4 linked regions of the Homo sapiens genome follow. The protein of the gene in region 1 interacts with the protein of each later gene in a pairwise test. Each region holds a gene or a part of one and is shown in the gene's direction. Other genes may lie near its edges.

What was found. The genes of interacting proteins can lie anywhere in the genome.
Region 2: the proteins of SYCE1 (region 1) and CFAP100 interact in binary tests that used the Homo sapiens proteins (3 or more experiments, as listed by UniProt).
Region 3: the proteins of SYCE1 (region 1) and STX19 interact in binary tests that used the Homo sapiens proteins (3 or more experiments, as listed by UniProt).
Region 4: the proteins of SYCE1 (region 1) and TPM3 interact in binary tests that used the Homo sapiens proteins (3 or more experiments, as listed by UniProt).

What each region holds. Positions count from the first base shown.
Region 1 is NC_000010.11:133,555,584-133,559,083, reverse strand, and holds part of SYCE1 (synaptonemal complex central element protein 1), read left to right. Parts: intron 1-132; coding exon 133-207; intron 208-869; coding exon 870-917; intron 918-1,165; coding exon 1,166-1,220; intron 1,221-1,927; coding exon 1,928-2,017; intron 2,018-2,261; coding exon 2,262-2,325; intron 2,326-3,036; coding exon 3,037-3,103; intron 3,104-3,180; coding exon 3,181-3,304; intron 3,305-3,376; coding exon 3,377-3,487; intron 3,488-3,500. UniProt on the Homo sapiens protein: Major component of the transverse central element of synaptonemal complexes (SCS), formed between homologous chromosomes during meiotic prophase. Requires SYCP1 in order to be incorporated into the central element.
Region 2 is NC_000003.12:126,401,409-126,404,908, forward strand, and holds part of CFAP100 (cilia- and flagella-associated protein 100), read left to right. Parts: intron 1-3,500. UniProt on the Homo sapiens protein: May play a role in ciliary/flagellar motility by regulating the assembly and the activity of axonemal inner dynein arm.
Region 3 is NC_000003.12:94,025,798-94,029,828, reverse strand, and holds the start of STX19 (syntaxin-19), read left to right. Parts: upstream 1-1,231; 5' UTR 1,232-1,462; intron 1,463-4,031. UniProt on the Homo sapiens protein: Plays a role in endosomal trafficking of the epidermal growth factor receptor (EGFR).
Region 4 is NC_000001.11:154,168,101-154,171,600, reverse strand, and holds part of TPM3 (tropomyosin alpha-3 chain), read left to right. Parts: intron 1-112; coding exon 113-188; intron 189-889; coding exon 890-952; intron 953-1,131; coding exon 1,132-1,201; intron 1,202-2,217; coding exon 2,218-2,296; intron 2,297-3,500. UniProt on the Homo sapiens protein: Binds to actin filaments in muscle and non-muscle cells. Plays a central role, in association with the troponin complex, in the calcium dependent regulation of vertebrate striated muscle contraction.

The sequences.
Region 1 (3,500 bases):
GCTGGAAGCCTCGTTTCCTACTCTATAAAATCTAGGCCACTATAGATTTACCTGAAGGCAAATGAGAAATGTCACTGTTGGGAAGAGAATAGAGGCTGCACTCACACAATGTTTTTCTGCTCTTTGGTGAAGCAAAAAAGAAAGCCAATAAAGACCTAGGAGAGGCCCGGACCATCTGTGAGGCCCTGCAGAAGGAACTGGACTCGCGTAAGAGAGCCGGGGGTCACCCAGAGGTCCCCACAGTGTCTTAAGCCTCCCCTAACCCTGTATTCCAGATAATCAGCATCCTTGCCATGGCCAAGGGTCCTGTACCCTCTCTAGCCTCATGTCCTGCCAATCTCCCCCTCTCCTCTCTGCTTGTGGGAGTGTTCAGGAAACACCCTCCAACCTCATTCCCACCTCAGGGCTTTTGCCAGACGCTGTCTGTGCTTCCTCAGATAATACAGGTTCCTCTTTCCTCACATCATCAGCTCTAAGTTAGAATGTCCCCAGACAGGATGACTGGCATTCCCCAATCATCCCATTTAAAGATGGCACCCTGCCTCCATCTGGTCACATGCCCCATCCTATTTGATGTGTTTCTTTATAGCCCTTATCCCACTTCGTGGGTGTTGGTATTTTTTCTCTCCTCCCCATGTAAAAGCACGAGCATCCTCCAGGGCCCTCACAGCCACCCTCTGTAAATGTGAAGGCCCTTTGGTGCTTACAAGGAATGTGGGCACCAGAGGGTAGGGAGGGGCTCACCTCAAGGGTTCACATTTGGGTTGGGGCCAAGGCTGTGCCCAGCTTCCCATGTGACCGTGAGCAAGCCCCATCCCTGAGGGTGCAGTGCATAGTCCCTGATGCCAAAATGTGTCACTGTTTTCTAGTGCATGGAGAGAAAGTACACCTGAAGGAGATCTTGAGCAAAAAACAAGGTATTTGCCGCTCCCCTGTCTCCAGGCTTGTGCCTTTGCCAACCCACAGAAGCCCACTCTCCCTATGGCAGCTGAAGCCTTTTGAAACCTGTCCCAGCTTGCCTCTCTCCTGTGGCTTCCACCAGACATGTAGTAAATGTTAAAGCTCAATCAGGTGTCCACAGACCTGACATGATCTGGCTGTGTTCCCCCTGCCAAAACCCAATACCTTGACAGGTTCTCATAGGGCCCTGTTGCTCTCCCTACAGAGACCCTGAGGATCCTCCGGCTGCATTGCCAGGAAAAGGAAAGTGAGGCACACAGGTAAGAGCTTCCAGCTGAGCCTAACTCTGCACTACCTCTTTATTCTGGTAGAGCAGAAAGAGGCAGGAAGATGAATCTGAGACCCACAGCTCTCATTGTTTCCCTCTAAACAATGGAGAGTCCAAAGAATGTCTTTCCCCTTCGGCTCCAACAGCTGGCAGTAGTGTTAAGGGAAACTCTCTCAATGGCAAGACATTCATTTGCTAAATTGTCAATTAAATTTCTTCAGCTGGTTTTTATTTTTTGCCTTTTACTCTTTGTCATACTCCTTGGATGTCTATTCACTCATCTGTCTGTTCATTTAGGCATTGAGCCAACCATTTGTCCATTCTCTCTCCATTCATCCATTATCTTTTCATCCACCCATCGATTTGTCCATCCATTTCTCCACCTCCTGATTTAGCTCATTTGTTACCAGAGGCCCCAGGCCCTGGCACACTGAGATTTCAGCTCTTTGGGAAAACGAGATGATACTAAGATGTGTGTGCATTTGCTCACTTAACCATGTCCACATTAATCTCTCTTAACCTGACAACAATACTTCCAGGGGGCAAATGGTCATGTCACTCCCTACTTACCACATGTTACAGAGAAGGACCTTAATGTAGAGGGAAAAAATAGCCTCAATAGAGGGAGGCAGAAGCCCCAGCCCAGTGCCCTCCTGGGGCTTAAGAGAACATGGCTGAGGGCTGCCTCGCCTCTCCCAGGAAGCACACCATGTTGCAGGAGTGCAAGGAGAGAATTTCTGCCCTGAACTTGCAGATTGAAGAAGAGAAGAACAAACAGAGACAGCTGAGGTAAACCTTAGCATCTGAGGCAGGGGGTTTGGATGGCCAGTAGTTGGGATATAATGTCAAAGATGGGGGTTAGAAAAGCTGGCTACACTGAGCCATGGAGATTCAAGGTGGTGAAGATGTTCCCAGTGGAGCAGAGACCATGGGCAAAGCACCCCAAAATCTGCCTGAAGAACCACAGACTTGGACAGGCTGTGAAGGTGGTGATTTCAGCCCATATCCCCTCATGCCTGTGGTTGGTTCCCAGGTTGGCATTCGAGGAACAGCTGGAAGATCTGATGGGCCAGCACAAGGACCTCTGGGACTTCCACGTGAGTCCCTCAAAGCCACTCCTCCCCCTTCCACATCTTCCCTAGCAGCACCAGGCCCAAACGGTCACTTCTTCCTCTCACCTGCCACAACCAGTCGCCAAGCAAGCCCTGGTGGTGCTAAGATCGACATTGCCTGAATCCAGTCCCTTGTCACCTCCTTGTGACCCTGCTGCTCAGTGGTCAGGGGGATCTCTGATGAGACCAAGGTCAAGTCTTCCATCACTGTCCGTGGATGTGTCTGGGACCATCACGGGCACAAAGGAGACAACGAGGATAAGCAGCCCGTGTTTGTCCCCCAGGAGGATCCTAGGCACTGAACAAGAAAATAGACAGTGAGTGTCAGGAAGGAAGGGCTCAGTGAGGAGGTCACACCAGGACAGAGGGGAGTGGGGAGGAGCTGCAGAGCTAAACCGGTACCTGATCCTCCAGAAAACAGCCAAGACTCACAGTGCTTGCAGGTTTATCTGTTGTAAATAACAATCCATGAGCATCCCCACTGCAGTACCGCAGAGATGTGGGATGACAGAAGTGCACAGGGAGGGAATGGCCAGTGCCATGGCCCTGAGGCTGTACTGTAGCTGGTGTGCACAGAGGGGCAGAGTTGTTGGAAGTGAGGCATAGTGAGTAAGTATGAAACAAGATCCAGATAGCCTTCTTTGAGGCATGGGGGAAAGCCAAGAGGAGTGGACAGGCCTCTTTTCTGCCCCTCAGATGCCAGAGCGGCTGGCAAAGGAGATTTGTGCCCTGGACAGCAGCAAGGAGCAGCTGCTCAAGGAAGGTGAGACCAGGGAAGGTGGATGGCCCATATCTGACCTCACGTGCCTTCATGTGCTCACCTGCCCCTTTGTGCTGCAGAGAAGCTGGTCAAGGCGACACTGGAAGACGTGAAGCATCAGCTGTGCTCCCTGTGTGGGGCTGAGGGCCCCTCCACCCTTGATGAGGGACTCTTTCTCCGCAGCCAGGAGGCTGCAGCCACAGTGTAAGATGTGGAGGGGAAGAGGGTGGGAGGAGGGAGTGGCCGGTGCTGACCACCCCCTACTGGGCCCCCCAGGCAGCTGTTTCAGGAAGAGCACAGGAAGGCTGAGGAGCTCCTAGCAGCTGCTGCCCAGCGCCACCAGCAGCTGCAGCAGAAGTGCCAACAACAGCAGCAGAAGCGGCAGAGGTGCGTGTGGAGG
Region 2 (3,500 bases), on another chromosome or scaffold:
ATATATATATATATATATATATATATATATATATAGTATTATGTTACTGCAATCAAAAAATGTGTTCTTAAAATGTGTTAAATAAGTGAAGTAAACAACTAAATAGACAGGATGGTTCCCAGCAGTGCTGAAATAGGAGGCTGATTCAGTGATTGTGGTGGGAAGCATTTAGACAGGGGGATCAGGAAGGCTTCCTGGAGAAGGTGACATTTGAGTAGAGATGGTGAATAATGGGGATGGGCAGCCCAGAGAGAGTGTCTCGGGAGAGGGAGCAGCAGGTGGGAGGGGGAGGAGATGGAGGGAGGTGTGGGTGTGCCCAGCTGCAGGGGAGGACACTGACCTGTGAGTGGGAAGGAGACGTGGCCCAATTCCGTGGGGAACATCCCTGCCAAACCCTGGTCCTTCTGTGGCTCCCAAGGGCCTCATCCCTGTGCTCCCCAGGCTCACACCCTGCCAGCCATGCTGGCCCCAGTGGCTCCTCTTCAGCTCTGCCTGCAGGTTTTGCCTCCATGACCCCACGCTGTCACCACACTCCCCTTGGGGCTCTGCTCCCATGGTGCCTCCTCCGTGGGCTCCCTGATTGCCCCAGCTACTGGAATATCTCTCACTTCTCTTTATTTTATGTGCTTGTTGCCGGTCCAGAATGTGGACTCCAGGAAGGTAGGCATGGCACCTCCTTCAGGGCGGCATCCCCAGCCACACCTGACCCTGAGAAAGCGCCCACAGCTGTGGCCAGGCAGATGCCACTCTGAGGAGGCCTGGCCACTGTCTGGCACCATCACTAACCCAGTCCTGGGGGTGGTGAGGGATGGGACAAACATGGCTCCTGCTGGTTTAAAACACAGGTTTTATTATTGCTGTGTGGTGAGGCCAACAGAGCAGGAGATGACTGTCACTGGAGAGATGGCTGCTTACTCACAGATCCCTAGGACAGAAGGGGGTGCACCACGCAGGGCTGTGCGGGGGAAGCTGCAGGGTCAGCCAGAAAGCCCGAGGGAAAGGGGGACGTGGGCAGGAGCCTCCACTGTGGAATCACAGGAAGGAACGGTGAGGTGAGTGAGCAGGTGTAGGACTGATTTGTTAGAATAGTTTCGGGGTTCTGGGGCACAGGGCTGCCCCTGGTTGTCTGGTCCTGGCTCTGGGGGGATAGGGCAGGGATCAGTGGTCCTGAGAGTGACAGACTGACAGAGGCTGTGGCTGGGGTGTGGGCTCTGGATTGGGTGGTTTGCATTTGAAAGGTGTGCTCTGGGCAAGTCATTTTCTATCTCCAGGGATTAGCTAATCCGAGGGGGAGGGGAGGGAAGGGAAGGTCCTCTAGGCTCAGGAAGGCCCCAGAGGTCAAAGCATCTAAATGAGAAGACTTGGTTAATATGCCTGCCTTCCAGGAGTTTACTGCCTGGGGGTCGGTGGTGGGGGGTGCAGTCCAGACTTGCTGTGGGGAGTCCAGGTGGGGGCAATCACAGAGAACCAGCAAATAGGATGATGGTGAGGGTGCAGGTGGCAGGGGCGGATGGGTCCAGTGCTCCTCAGGAGACAGAGTCTGTGGGATCTGGTGACTAGGTGTGGAATGAGGGAGAAGAGGGTGTCGGGGATGCCTTGTCTCCTCAGTGACACCTGTGCATCACAGTGCTGTTTGCTGAGATGGCCAAGGCCAGGGGTGGAGCAGGTTTCGCAGGAGGGGGAAGGCCAGGAGCTCAGTTGGCGATGTGTAGGTGTCAGTGTCCTGTGGGAAACTCCCAGCCGAGACTCTGAAGAGGCTGCTGTGGATGGAGGCCCAGAGGTCAGGAGAGTAGGCGGAAACGTGAGGGCATCAGCAAATCCGCTGGGGCTGGAACTGAAGCCATGGGCACTGGTGAGGCGTCTAGGAGGAAAGGAGAGAGAATGGCCCGGGACACAGCCCAAAAGACTCCGATGGATAGAGGATGTTTGGAACTCATGTCACATGAGTGGAGTGCCCAGTCGAGTGTATTTTATCTTTTTTTTTTTTTTTTTTTGAGACAGGGTCTCACTCTATCACACAGGCTGGAATGCAGTGGTGCAATCTCGGCTCACTGCAATCTCCACCTCCCAGGTTCAAATTATCTTCCTGCCTCAGCCTCCAGAGTAGCTGGGATTACAGGTGCACCATCATGCCTGGCTAATTATTGTATTTTTAGTACAGACAGGGTTTCACCATATTGGCCAGGCTGTAGTTGGACTCCTGGCCTCAAGTGATCCACCTTCCTCGGCCTCCCAAAGTGCTGGGATTACAGGCGTAAACCACCGCACCTGGCCTATTGTATCCTTTTTTATGAGAATGTTTCACACCCAGTTCATTCTTTTCCTATCTCTCCTGAATTATTATAAAAGTAGACTTACACTTTAATAAAGACTTTTTAAGTTAAAAAATTAAATCATGTTAAAATACTAGAAGAAAACACCATTTTTTTTTCTAAAAAATATTTAAACTTCAGCGGCAGAATGCCTTTCTAAACAAGACACTAAACCCCAAAGCATTTCATTAAGCAAAAGTTAAATTTTCATACAAGGAAAATGAATGATAAAGTCAAATTGCCTGAAGGAGAATTATTTTCAGCAGCTCTGACAAATAAGCCAGTGTCCATCAATATAATAGATGAAGGTTCTCAAGAATCGTCTAGAAACTAGAACATTTCAGTAGAGAAATGGGCAAAGGATACTAATAGAATGAGGCAAGAAGATGGATAATTAACATCCAAAAAGACACACAGTTTCTTCCTAATTAAGAAATGCAGATGAAAACTGAGATGCCCTTTGTGACCTGTTAGAGTGACCGTTTCTGGTGTAGGGAAAGCAGTCCCACTAAAGTTGGTGATGGAAGAGTATCAAGCTAAAATAACCAAAAGAGTCAGAATCAGGTTTAGAGTTTCTCCAAGCACGAAGTTGAGGAGAAGTACAGGCCACCCAGTAATCAGAGATCCAGAGAATGAAAGTCCATGTTCCAAAGTGTAGAAGTTTGAGATTGTTTATCTAGACAAAGCTTTGGGAAGTTTAGCAGAATTTCAGCATCCTTCTATGGAAGGCTGCCTGCACATTACAAGGATCTGACTCGCTAAGGGGTCCTTTTCTCTCTGGACAAGTATATTTATCATTCCACACTGAAGATGCAACTGTCATGGGGTCCTGGGTGCCATCTGCTCTGAATTAGGTATGGGACAATAAAGAGGCAGTTAATCGGTAACAAAGTCTAGTGATTGGAAGTGGGAGTTCTGGTGTCCAGTCTCTCCCGGTCATTCACAGAGCAGGGAAAATGAGGTTTTTTTTCTGAGATGGAGTCTCGCTCTGTCGCCCAGGCTGGAGTGCAGTGACACAATCTTGGCTCACTGCAACCTCCACCTCCTGGGTTCAAGCGATTCTCCTGCCTCAGCCTCCCAATGAGCTGGGACTACAGGTGCACACCACCACGCCTGGTTAATATTTGTATTTTTAGTAGAGACGTGGTTTCACCATGTTGGCCAGGATGGTCTCGATCTCCTGACCTC
Region 3 (4,031 bases), on another chromosome or scaffold:
AATGCTCCCCTTTGAATGTTCCATCATTTATTCAGCCAGTTCTACGCTGAAGGACTTTTGTGTTTCCAGTGTTTTGTTTTTACAAAGAGTGCTATAAAAAGTAGGTGTGTAAAGGAGTCATTTCTTATTTTGAGTACAGATTCCAGGAAGTAGAACTGTTAAAACAAAGAATAAATATAAATGTGATTGGCCGGGCATGGTGGTTCACATCTGTAATCCCAGAACTTTGGGAGGCTGAGGCAGGTGGATCACCTGAGGTCAGGAGTTCGAGACCAGCCTGGCAAACATGGTGAAACCCCATTTCTACAAAAAAATTAGCTGGGCGTGGTGGCAGGCAACTGTAATCCCAGCTACTTATGGGGCTCAGGCAGCAGAATTGCTTGAACCCGGGAGACGGAGGTTGCAGTGAGCCAAGATCGTGCCACTGCACTCCAGCCTGGGCTACAAGAGCAAGACTCCTTCTCAAAAAAAAAAAAAAATAAAAAAAAAATAAATATATATATATATATATATATATATATATATATGATTTTGATAGATACAGCAATTTCCTTCTTCTTGCCCTCAAATAGTAACAAGTCAGGTAGAAAAAATGGGTCTGAAATTTGGTAGTACAAGAGAAATTTTCATTTTTAATTCTTCCTATAAACATTTCCCTCTGGTATAAATTAATTTTGAGTTGTTATATTGACAAAATAAATGATTTAACATATATTGCTGGATAACTTTAGTTCTATATAAAATTTATTTTAAAATAAAAACAGCAGGCATAATAAAAAGTAAAAAAAATTAAAAGTAACGTGGGATGAATGGTTTACAGACATGAGCTCTTTCCTGGATGTTCTCCTTCTGAAATTCTATGATTTTGTGAGCTAAGCTCTTTTGGGATTTCCTAAAATAGGACAGATTTCAACCATTTTAAAGTAAATGGAACAAAAAAAGCTTTTACACCAAGCTTCTTTTCATTCCTATTTAATTCCATATTTTTAGTAAGTTTTGATATCTATAGAAAAGAAAGTAACCTTTGTTTAAATACAAACCCATTTTCTTGGAATAATATATTACATATACAATGTAGGACTAAATTTGCAGATCCAGTGCCAAATACTCTACGTAGGCAGTTTAACGAGGACTTCCTGTTACCGACTAGCTCCAATGAAAATGATCTTCCTTTAATCTAAAGAATAGGCGTCTAACAGGCAGAACCAGATTCTCCAGGTGTGAAGTAAGCAATCTATTTTCACTTGCTATTAACAGCAAACGTACAACTTTATCTCTTATTTGACTTCATTATTTGGCTTTCAAATTAACAACATGAAAACTATACAGAAATTAGTCTGTGCCCTATAAGACAGAGATTTAGATAATTTGTTCAAAACATGAGATGATATTCAGATATTCTCTCAAAGGCAGGACTCCAACACCGCAGGTGGAAAACCAACAAAAGGAAGAAAACAGAAAGGTAAATAATGACTCTTTTCTGTACTTTTTAATATGAGGTATCCATAGACTGACATCTGGTTACACTGTTACATTTAAAAATCACTCAACAAATAATGAGGGTTACTTGTTTTGCTCAGATTTGGACCGGGGTACCAGTAGCTGATTTGTTCACATATATTACTGACATGCTGACTGGGATCTGGGTATAAAGCTCTTGAAAATAGACTACGATAATAAAAATCAACTTTAGAGGAAAGAAAAAATTTTTAAGTCTTTTAAAAAGTAAGCTCTCATTTAAAAAATACTAGAAAGTCAGATGTAAAAACAGATCTAAAATTATTTCTTTTATAGACAGACTATGAATGTGCTTACTTTAGAGAACATTTTTATATTTCACTCTGAAAAGCAGCTTATACCCAAATTTGACACATACGTATAACCTTAAAAATCTGAAATAATTTGCTATAATGGTCTTAATTGCTTCATTGTTGTTTACTAGAATCTTCTAAAATTGAAAAAATGAGAAAATAATCTTGTGAAAGGGCTACCAGAAAATATCGAAGTACTCACTAACCTTTATAATATTTCAACTAGTACATTAAAAATACTTGTTATACCATTTAACGTAAGTGTTAGCATTTAATTGATAGTTTGAAAAATTTAAATCAGCATCATTTAAATACAACATATGTAGATAGGTTAGATACTTTCAAAGTTATAATTGTTACTATGTTAGAATTTAATAAATATTCCATTTCAAATCAAAATAATAATGACTTTTATATGTATTTTAAAGGTGGACTTGAGAATTGGCCACGTAATACCTCGAACACATTATCTTCACAGCTATGCAGTTTTAAATGTAATATAAAAATCATTTTATGTATGTACAGCTTACTTGAATCAGATAAAAGTTCAAAAATTATACATCATATTTAAACAAAAATGATCTTAATGTTGTTATACAAGTTAATTCAATAAGTTATTTAGACTAAATAAAATGTAGAAAAAAGCATTGAAAGTTTACATTGCAAAAAAAGTCAGATACTTCAAAATTAGACAATATATGCAATTTGCAATTTTTTTTTAGTTTTTAGAAACTACTATTTGGCCCTCACTTTAGTAGCCAAAGAGGTTAATATATTACAATAAGATCCTCTGCTTTCACTTGCACTAGAAAAATGTGGCAAGTTGACTTCATATACAAAAGCAACAGAATATTCTGTTTTCTCTTGGGTAAAAACTGGTCATATTTCTTGAAATGTTTTATTTAATCATTACAGTAACTATGAAAAGAAATGGCCTACTTTAAAAAAATCTATAAATACACTAAGTATCTATCCCAGGGCATATTTCTAAAAGTACAAGGTAATTTTTACTCATGTTTCTGTTTCTAGGGATTTTCAGTGTCTGTAATAGGGCAGAGAACCTTTTATTTGAGTCGCACCAGTTTACTTTTCTATTTCCCAGAACAAGTTGTCCAAGTTGATTATCATACATACGAGTTAGTGTTCTTTCTTTTTTAAATATCATGTTTAAGCTCACAGATACAGTTCTTGCTAGTAAAATTCAAAACTGTATAGCAATGCTGCAAGTTAAACATAATAAAAGATGATTCATATTTGTATATAACTCTTCCAACATAATAAATTTAAGGTACATAACAGACTGCATAAAATAGTAATTTCATCAATTTCACCTAGTCTAAGCAATTAAATGATTTCACAACTATGAGCTTCATATTTTATGCTTATATGAATCCTGTCCTTGCATGTTTTAAATTCTAACATGCTTATTTGTCTCATTTTGCCTAACATTCTAATTCATGAAGATATAAGATCAATAAATTGGATAGTTATACATATAGTTATGAGTATGCAACTACTAGAAAATGTAATTTATATACAGCATATAAACATATTTGAGTACCTATCAAGTCAATTTCTACACAGATGAACAAGGATTTAGGGAAACATTCTCAATTATGTTAATTCTATAAAGATAAGCAACTGTGACTTTCAGTCAAAATGCACAGATACAGAAGTTACTCCCTCTTTCTCTAAACATACAGAATTTGATGTAATCGTAAGTTTAAAAAAGACAAATTTTAAAACAACATCACTAAATTTTAGAGTAAAAAAGCGAAGTTTTCTCCTGGCTCACACGGTGAAACCCCATCTCTACTAAAAATATAAAAAGTTAGTCGGGTGTGGTGGCGGGCGCCTGTAGTCCCAGCTACTCTGGAGGCTGAGGCAGGAGAATGGCGTGAACCCGGAAGGCGGAGCTTGCAGTGAGCCGAGATGGTGCCACTGCACTCCAGCCTGGGCGACAGAGAGAGACTCCGTCTCAAAAAAAAAAAAAAAAGAGAAGTTTTCAGGTGCCAGAAATGATGAGGAAACATACTTAAAGCCAAAGTGAAGAGTAGTAATTAAAGCTAATTACACTGGGCAAATACTTTACCTTAAAGCTGAGGTTTAGAGTTTGTTGCATTATAGGGAACTAAAACTGAGTTTCCTAGATGAAACAGTTAACTAGGAATAATACAACATAATCTGTATACAAAGACAGGAATAACTCTGTTGACTTGC
Region 4 (3,500 bases), on another chromosome or scaffold:
CCTTCCAACTCTCTCTACATATAGGTTCAATTCACGTCTATGTGTCTCTCTCCCTTTTTTTATTCTCTTCCTTTTCCCTTTTCCTCTCCTGTGGTATTTAAAATATTCACAGTAAGTGTTCTGAGCTGGAGGAGGAGCTGAAGAATGTCACCAACAACCTCAAGTCTCTTGAGGCTCAGGCGGAGAAGGTAGGGGCTGGTTTGTGAAAGTGACAGGCTTTGGGGCCTGGGCCCAGCCCTGCCCTTGATGAAAGACTGGAGACACGCATTCCATATATAATCCAGTGAGGCGTGTCCTCTTCCTACCTCCTTACCATGTATTCAGGTTCTGGGTTTAATGCTATTTTCTGTGCACTTTGATTGCTTTAATTAAAATAACTTCTTGGTCTCAGGTTACTGGAGTCATGTGCTCCTTAGGCTGATACTGCTGTGCTGAAAAGCAATAATCAAGGGCCCTAACAGGCTTTCTAGCAGACAGATGGGGGCAACAGACAGAATCAGCTCTGAGACCTAATGAGCAATCAAGACAGATGACTTCACTTTGCCATCATGTGGGTGTGTTTCAGTCATGTGACCTTGGGGTGCTACTACTCTTGCTCATCAAGCAGGGGAAAGGAAAAACACCTCCTTGGGTTGATCTGAATAATATCAAAGCTTAGATCCATCTTAAAAAGTCATGGAGAATTTTAACCTGAGGATCTCATGGCTCTAAAGACATAGATTTCTGAATTTCAAGGACCTATTGTCCAGAGCCAGGCCTTGCTCTTACTCTTGGACCATTCAGCACATTTAGTGCAAGAGGATATTCAATGTAAGTTAAATGTAGGGAGGGGGGTATTGCCTGTGTGACTAATTTCTACTCTGAAATTTTTAATCTACTTATCTTACAGTACTCTCAAAAAGAAGATAAATATGAGGAAGAAATCAAGATTCTTACTGATAAACTCAAGGAGGTGAGCTGAGGGGATTTATAGGGCAGAACCCAAAACATTTAGAGGTATATAAGGCATTAATATGGATTTAAACTGGCTGGTTTGGGTTCTGAAAGGTCCAGAAGTAGAAGGTGGAAGAAATAGAGATTGTTCTTCTTTGTCTTCATCTCTGGTTCTGACTAATTTCATATTTCCCCCAGGCAGAGACCCGTGCTGAGTTTGCTGAGAGATCGGTAGCCAAGCTGGAAAAGACAATTGATGACCTGGAAGGTATGGAACCTGGAGTAGGGATTGAAATAGAGAAATATAGAGGAAGACTGCCCATTAACCATTAATCTCTTTTTCTGTACACCAAAGGAAGTTGGTAGTGACTTGGCATGTATTAATATCATGTGCACTGTCCTATGCCACAGCTAGGCAAAGTGGGTCAAACTCTAGAATTGGTTTTTTAAATTTAATCTTTTCCTTTAAGAAGACTTTACCAAATAGTCTGCAATTTGTACCCTTCCCTTTTGAGGAGAATGATAATGGCTGCATTTACCTCCAATTTATTAGTCTTAAACCTTTAGTCTGTGGGTTTAAATGGAAGCCATGATTTCAGAAGGGCAAGATGTATGTCATTTCATGGCTACTTTCCACAGTTCTTTTTGCCACTCAAGTTGTCGGGTATTTATCCAATAAATGAAGTTGTGGAATAACCATATCTGAACATTGACCAATGTCAGGAGCTTTCTAAATACTTTCTGTCCCTGCAAGTTGGTAACTGCCATCCACCCTGACAAGGGAACGTACTCTTTGCTTTGAGAACTCTGATGTATGCTCCTTTGGTACACTCTCTTGGCAGAGTTGCAGGGGCAGCCTGTGGAGCAGAGGGGCCACTAATAGGTTCACATTTTGTAGGCAGAGAAGTGTCTGAATATGGATATATACTCTCTCCCTTTGCTATTTTTGTTCAATTAAGTGTTATCACTGCTAGGAATTGGGTACCTGGATGGGAGTGGTATCCTCTTGAGTGCTTTTGGTAATAGGAATTTCTAGTTATGACTGTGCCCAGGTTCTCAGCCCTTGCTGCAGTCGATTTGGAGTATCAAGAAAGGAAGTTGGTCATAGGAGAGAGTAGATCTGAAAATGTCCAGTCATGGTTGCCAGAGTAGATATTTTCCTAACTGTGGTATTAGACCCACAGTCACACTTTCCTAATTTCTAATGATTCCCTCTCTTCATCTGCTTCTGAAACTCTTCACTCTGTCCCCTCATTCCTCCCTGTGGTTCCTGTGCCTGTCCAGATGAGCTCTATGCCCAGAAACTGAAGTACAAGGCCATTAGCGAGGAGCTGGACCACGCCCTCAATGACATGACCTCTATGTAACTATCTGACAGTAGAGTGGGGCTGGGATCTTGGCTTGTGGGTGGATGGGGGTACAAGCTATGCATAGTGGTGTGCTTTGGTTTTATCCTTTGGAAACTAGAATCTCCACCCTTATCTTTGAAACATTGGTGCTGGTTATTTGTTTGGCAAAAGCTTTGGAGGCATGGCCGGGCGCGGTGGCTCACGCCTGTAATCCCAGCACTTTGGGAGGCCGAGGCAGGTGGATCACGTGAGGTCAGGAGTTGGAGACCAGCCTGGCCAACATGGTGAAACCCCGTCTCTACTAAAAATACAAAAAGTAGCCAGGCATGGTGGCAGTGCACCTGTAATCCTAGCTACTCAGGAGGCTGAGCCAGGAGAATCGCTTGAATCTGGGAGGCAGAGGTTACAGTGAGCCAAGATGTGCCACTGCATTTCAGCCTGGGCAACAGAGTGAGACCCCATCTCAAAAAAAAAAAAAAAGAAAAACATTAAAGGCTGGGCGTAGTGGCTCACACCTGTGATCCCAGCACTTTGGGAGGCTGAGGTGGGCGGATGACTCGAGGCCAGGAGTTCAAGACCAGCCTGGCCAACATGGCAAAACCCTGTCTCTACTAAAAAATATTTAAAAAATTAGTTGGGCTTGGTGGCGCATGTCTATAATCCCAACTACTCGGGAGGCTAAGGCAGGAGAATCACTTGAAACCAGGAGATGGAGGTTGCAGTGAGCCGAGATAATGCCACTGCACTCCAGTCTGGGTTGAAGAGCAAGACTGTCTAAGAAAAAAAAGCTCTGGAGGCAATTAATCTTGGATCAGAAGGAGAACCCTGACTGACTTGTAATTTTTATATTTTGTATTCATAGTTTCTTCATTATACTGTGATTTTTCTATTTGCTTCTCAAATTTAGTCTTCTCAGAAGGGATACTGCTAGAGGTAGAATCCATACAACTAAGGAAATAGGGCCCACAGAGCCAGTAACTTGGGCCCTGACACATTAAGACAAAATTCAGGCCTCCTGGGTGTGTTTAATTGGTTCCCTGATATTAAAGTTCAGGGAACTACCCAAGATGGGAAATACCAAATTCACCTAAGAATTGAGCTGAGTCCCAGAAGCAAGCCAAGTGATAAACAGCACCAAAAAGAGTTGTTGGGGCTTCATCTGTTTGCTGTGGATCCCTGATCCTTGATGCTAATCTGCCTCTTTGTATCTTTCCCACT